Linked DNA regions of Homo sapiens: region 2 is reported to be linked to region 1. Evidence: microRNA targets listed by miRTarBase, many of them from high-throughput screens and not tested one by one. Region 1 holds a microRNA gene; the other region holds the end of a gene's coding sequence.
What was found. The annotated mature microRNA hsa-miR-491-3p reads CUUAUGCAAGAUUCCCUUCUAC and lies in region 1 at 2,173-2,194, opposite strand. An mRNA with a match to its seed (bases 2 to 7 or 8) in the 3' UTR can be bound and repressed. Matches are read on the target gene's strand: a 7mer-m8 pairs with bases 2 to 8, a 7mer-A1 pairs with bases 2 to 7 and ends in A, and an 8mer does both.

Region 1 (3,000 bases):
ACCTGCTATTTGTGTAAGATGGAATTTTTCAGCTTTGACTGTCAATGTATGACCTTTCCAACTAAGAACTCACAGCTGGGGCTGAGCTGAAGCATGAGAAATCTACATCCAAACAGAGCCACTCTGTTCATTCTCTTCATTACCAAAATAATTCCCTCAGAGGTAACTCTATCAATCTTCTCTAAAGCATGCTTTCTCTCATTCCACCCATATTATTTTTCATTAATAGTCATAAGAATACTCCTCTCCAGCCCTTCCCTCCATGTCTCATTCCTAGAGGGTTTTAATAAATTTAAAACTTTTTTATTGCTATATATTAAAAAGGCAAACAAATAAACAAAAAAGGCAATGAAGTTCTCACAGTTCAAAAGCATTTCTACTGTGATCTGAACTATCAGGGAAACAAGACAGGTGCATATGTGATCCAGCTAGTAGCAATCTTATCTGAAGAGAATTAAAGCATAAAGTTAAACACAGACCTGATTTGTAGATTGGTGAATCTTTTCTGAAAAACCATTTTCCTTTAGGACTGCAGCAATAAGATGACCCACAGCCTTAAAAAGAAATAAAATTAATGAACACAGTCCCTTAGAAGTTCTTTCCAAATATCAATACTAGTTGATATGAGTATGCCAGGCAGTCAATTAGGATTAAGTAAAATTCCCATTAACTAAGTGTGTGCTATGTAGAAGGCATTGAATTAGGCACTCCACATGCACAATTTCTAATCTTCAGAATAGCCCTCAAGGTAGGCATATCTATCCCAGGTTACCAATAAGCAACTATAGTGCATAGAGGTTAAGAAAACTGCCAGATTTTTGGTTCAAATTGCTGTCAGTATCAGAAGATAACTTGAGATTGCTTACTCCATTAAAACATGAATGAGAAAGCCCATAGTTTTTAAAATCATCTTTGCACTGAAACGAAATCCACCATGCTTCATCACACTGTTAACGAATATGAAGAATATGTCTTAGAGCCAATAGGCTAGCAACAATCATTGCCATTCTGTGTACGGGTTGGAAACTACTTCACTATTGCTACAACTGTCCATCCTGCACTTGGGACCAAATTACGGTATAGCTGTGAATAACTGTCAGTCCTGCAAAGTCTCCAGAACAGCTCAAATAAAAACACAGCACCCACTCCTTCCTCATTTTTCTCTTTGTATTTCACACATTGGAACTGATTTAAGACCGTGGTGCTTGTGGTCTAGTTTTGTGATATAAGTCACTCATTTACATGAATATTAAGTTTAGTCCAACTTACTGTCTCTTATCTCCTAGTAAAAGGAATAGTAATAAGAACTGAGCACCCATGGATAGGTTGAGCTCCTGTTTTACAAAACATACCATATTTCATTGAATGGAACTGACCAGGAATTGCAAGTTGCACCATTATACTGTGTGCCACTAAGAAAGAAAAAAGGCTGCCAATTAGTCTATGATATACAGTGCTTCTTATAAGTCGGAATTTTGGTTTTATAGTCACACAAGAGTTCTTTTAGACTCGTGTAGAAAATCATGCCCAAGTTCACAAATGTGCAGGCAATACCAACTGTATCTCAACTGCTGCCATCAATTACTAGAGGCAATCCAATTTCAAAGATGTTAAAATCTGAAAAAAAACGTGTGTGAATCAAAGAAATATGGTGCTAACATCGAGCAGTGGTTACAGAAGAACAATAAGAAATATTTGCAAAGGACAGGACACAATCACAAGAACCTAATAAAACTAATATGAAACACAATAGGGACAAAGAAAAAGCTATAGTTCATATCTAGAAAAAGAAATAAAAGAAGAGAAGCTTAATTCCCCATTCCCCACCAGGTTGAATTTATCTAATATACTTTTCACTTCATCTTCTAACAAATCAGAGATACTAGCCTAAACTGATTTTTTAAAATACAAAACCCAAGGATAAATCAGCCTACATTGCTACTTAAGTGTTCTATAACAGAATTCAAATAGCCATCCTACACTAAACAATATAAATATATATATATATTTTTTTCACCTAATTTAACAGTAACACGTATGGGCATTTCTTGATTATCTATGTTAACAAAGAGACTCCAGGCACAGAAAAATAAAACTGTGAATAGTATCCTCCAAGCCTTCATCTTCTTCTTCATGGTAAGGACCTGCAGGATATGACTCCAACCCAGCCAGGTAGAAGGGAATCTTGCATAAGGAGTGTTCTACTCCTCATGGAAGGGTTCCCCACTACCCAGCTAAGTCAATTCCCACAGCAGACATCTCCGAAGTTAATTGTTGAAAGTATCCAAGGTGCTGTATGTTGTTAAGTCTTCAAGATGGCTTCTGCTGGTCTGTTAGCTTTACTCTCACAAGAAAAGACAATAAGCTATTATGATACCTTGATTAACCAGAATGTTTCTAGTTAGCTAAAGGCTACCCAGAAAGCCATCTTTGTTTTAACTATTTAATTATTGAAAAGCTCTTTAAAGTTATCACAATCTTCTATCTTAGTAGATATATCAAATTTTCTAATCCAGGATATTTTACTTATTAAATATCATTATTATAAAAATCTATATAAGGGGTAGGATATGTCTTCTTAAATATTAATCCCTCATACTCTTCAGACATATAACTGTTTACCTCTGTTCCCAATAATCATAGGCCAAAAAAAACCAAACAAACATATTCAGGGGCCTACTAGTTAATCAAGGTTTTATTATCTCTAGGAAGAAAAGTATGATATATAAACAGAAGCTGAGATTGATCAATTTCAAATATTTGCTTTCCATGTCAAATATATATTTTCAAATTAAATGTATATTTAAAGTTGTTTCACAAAATATAAATCTCTACATGTAGAATAAAATATTTAATATTAAATATATAAAGTTCAGTTAAAAATCCACAGAACAGGTTTATTTGTTACCATGAGCAAAAATAAACAAACAAAATTACCTGTGATTGGATAAGAGAATTTGGAAATTCAAACCTTTTCCTGATATCATCTGACATTTTTGC
Region 2 (3,544 bases), not on the chromosome of region 1:
ATTGCACCACTGCACTCCAGCCTGGCGACACAGCACGACTGTCTCAAAAAAAAAAAAAAAAAAAAAAAAAAAAGCCTGCAGAATAAATGAAAACAACAATAACAAAAACTGGGGGTCAGTCCCACACCACTATTCACTGCATCTCTGGAATTCAGCTTTTGGGATTTTTTTTCTATAAAATGAAGTTGATATTTTCCCACTTCCTAAACAGAATGAATGTTTTAAGGAACAAGGAAAGAGCATTTGCTTTGAATTTCTAATATTAAAAGGAACTATAAGAATAGAAATACAGTTAACCACTATTTTCTTAACTCTCAACGAACAGATATATTTCTGCTTTAAATGAGTGTTGTCTATCACGGCCAATCAGCTGCTAGCAAACTCTTACCATTTATCCAAACTCTGCCCTGAGGCACTTGCTGTCTTATCCAACCAACCATGTACAACTCTACCTCCACCCTTTAGCTATATACAAGGATTTCCTGTGTCAAAGAATAATGAGTGGGCCTGGCACGGTGGCTCACACCTGTAATCCCAGCACTATGGGAGGCCGAGGCTGGTGCATGACCTGAGGTCAGGAGTTCCAGACCAGCCTGACCAAGATGGTGAAACCCTGTCTCTGCTAAAAACACAAAATTAGCTGGGTATGGTGGTGCATGCCTGTAATCCCAAGCTACTTGGGAGGCTAAGGCAGGAGAATCGCTTGAACCCAGGCAGCAGAGATTGCAGTGAGCCGAGATCACGCCATTGCACTCCAGCCTGGGCAACAAGGGTGAAACTCCATCTTAAAAAAAAATTAAATTAAAAAAATAATAATAATGAGTAGGCAAACAGGGAAGAATATAGAGGAGAAAAATTATCTTAATAAGAACAATAGAATTTGAATTGAAGAAGGCTAGGAAATATATCTTAACTAGCCTAAAATACAAAAAATCAATGTTAATACTTGTGTTCTTCCAATGAGATGATATTTTTGAGGGCAGTACAAATTTCAATAGTTGCTTAAGTGAATTGGTAGAAAAAAGTTTAAGATTAGACAAAGTTCTGACCCCAAAGAACATACATTTGTTTTAATTACTCCCAATACAATTGATCTTATCAAGTTAGATGTGCTCTCAACACACATCAGTCTTAACCATAGGAGCCTTTACTCACTTGTTTAAGGCAGAAACTCAACTGCCTTACACAATATCCAGTAGCTTTCTTCATTCAATCCTCAAGAAAAACTTACCACTTTGTAATTTACCTAAACTGTTTACCTAGAGAAAACCTTTGTGTCCTTAGAATTAGCTGGATTACTCTTTGAGCTCCCTCCTGATTGGACGCTGATGCTGTTGAATGTGTCAGGAAACGTCCTCAGAAGTGGAGGGAGCTCAAGAGTTTTGTAAGTGGTTAAATTCTAAGGCTCACAAACCAAATTTTTTAGATGTATTCAAATGCCCGTGAAGCTTAGAATTTAACAAGAGGGCAAAAAAAGATGAGTCTGTTTTATTATCCTTGACTATGCGGGGTTTGAAATTTAAACATTTCAGAAACAATTTAGATCTATCCTTTGTGGTGAAGCTTAACCAGCTATTTCCCAGGTATATAGAGCCGGGGAATCTGTTATTTCTTTCATCAACTTTAATTTTCCTGGGGTTTTAGCTTTGTAAGTGTCACCATTATAAAAGAGAGTTAAGTTGATTTATAGAGGAAAAGCTAACATCATGGATCTTAAATGTAGTTATAGAACACTGAATGTATCCACTTTGCTGGTTTTATGGATCAGGAAAAAAGTGAAAACTGTGCCACTGAAAAATTACTTTTTCAGTGATTTTTAGAAAATTAAAATCAACCCAGGAAGCCCCAAAAATCCTGACGCTGAGGGTAGAAACATGATTTATATTTTATCATCATTCTCTTTCAACTCATGTAAACCTCTGGTCATAAAATCTCAAATTACTTTTTAAGGTGTCTAAGAAAACACTCTAGACCAAGTTAACAACCCTGGGGTTTTTAGTCAATGCAGTTCTAGCTCAGTCTCTGTCTCTGCATGCTTATTTATCTATGTGTGTATATCTTACTGTTTCTTAAATATTTTTTAATGTCTCTCTGACTCTTCTCCCTTTAACTGTTTTTTTTATTAAAAATGAGATATACCACATCTGTAATCCCAGCACTTTGGGAGGCCAAGGCGGGCAGATGACGAGGTCAGGAGATCGAGACCATCCTGGCTAACACGGTGAAACCCCGTCTCTACTAAAAAAATACAAAAAAATTAGCTGGGCGTGGTGGCGGGCGCCTGTAGTCCCAGCTGCTCAGGAGGCTGAGGCAGGAGAATGGCGTGAACCCGGGAGGCGGAGCTTGCAGTCAGCCGAGATCGCGCCACTGCGCCCCAGCCTGGGCGACACAGAGAGACTCTGTCTCAAAAAAAAAAAGAGGTATACTCAATGTTAAAAAGTAAAGAGAAGCCATGTAGGTAAGATGTTGTGGAGCTAGTAGTTAAAAAATAAAACTACTCATGATTTGGTATATCTTAAAATAAATTTTTATACATTATAACATATGTATAACATACAGTTATGCATTAAAGTAACTATTAATTTCCTATATGGAAGAAAATATTTAAAAATAATCCTGGTAGGAGTGAATTCATGTGAAATGTAGGCAGAAGTGATAGTTTAGAATATGCTTTAAAACAGATTTCATTTACTTTATATTCAATTTGATTTTACTGATTCTATAACTGGAAAAACTTAGAATTCTATAAATAACTATTTAAGGTTTCCATATTTCTACATTGATTTCTGATTTCTAAATTGTTATTTCGTTTGTGAAAAGTTCACAGTAGTAATTGAATGTTACATTTTAATAGCCACATATTAATATGTCTTATGAGAAGATCTAATATATACAACCTTAAAACCATGGATAAGCTGTGAAGAAAAAAAGTCAATGAAACTTGAGGAGGAAAATAATTTATGAATTAAAAATGCCACGCAAATTTTCTTTTTCAGAATTGGTATAAAAATTCTGAAAGAGAAGCTGCTACTCAACTAGGATAGTATCCACATTTTCTTGTGTGAGCTCTGACTCTAAGGCACAAGGCAAGTCTAAGTGTTCTTGTGACAAGCGAGAACTTTTCAGGGAGACATCAGACCAGCTGTCACAGTATGGCTGAAATCTCTGGGCCAATGCATTACCAAACCTTTGGCATCGGTTATATCTGTAAGATTTACCTTTGTGTGTATACATGTGTTCCAACAATTGGCTCTTTCGAGGGAATTTATGACCACAGATGGTACAGCTCATTTTTCTTTTCCTTGAAAAAGAAAAATTACAGTTTAATTCTACTGGCTCTGTGTCTTTGGAGATCAAAGATACTTGACTGATCTGCAAAGGCTCTGTGGTACCCCGGTTGGTGTGGTCTGGCTGCTGTTCATTCTCCTTAACAATGAAGGAGCTGAGCCTGCGGCATTCAAGGGCCTCGCTGTTTTCATTAAGGGGATGCACTTCACCAAGGTCATTACTTTCCAGAATGGAAGCAGGGACACCGAATGGCAGG

Region 2: miRTarBase lists ZBTB25 as a target of hsa-miR-491-3p. Seed matches in the 3' UTR shown: 7mer-m8 at 2,560-2,566.

Annotation. Positions count from the first base shown.
Region 1 is chr9:20,715,348-20,718,347 of GRCh38, reverse strand. MIR491 (microRNA 491) reads right to left here and starts at 2,243; the gene lies at 2,160-2,243. FOCAD (focadhesin) reads right to left here. Exons shown (of 44, transcript NM_001375567.1): 2 at 2,938-3,000; 3 at 480-554. The coding sequence starts at 2,994.
Region 2 is chr14:64,483,896-64,487,439 of GRCh38, forward strand. ZBTB25 (zinc finger and BTB domain containing 25) reads right to left here. Exons shown (of 3, transcript NM_006977.5): 3 at 1-3,544. The coding sequence ends at 3,028. Among named protein-coding and RNA genes, the nearest start is that of ZBTB25, 18 kb to the right of the region's middle.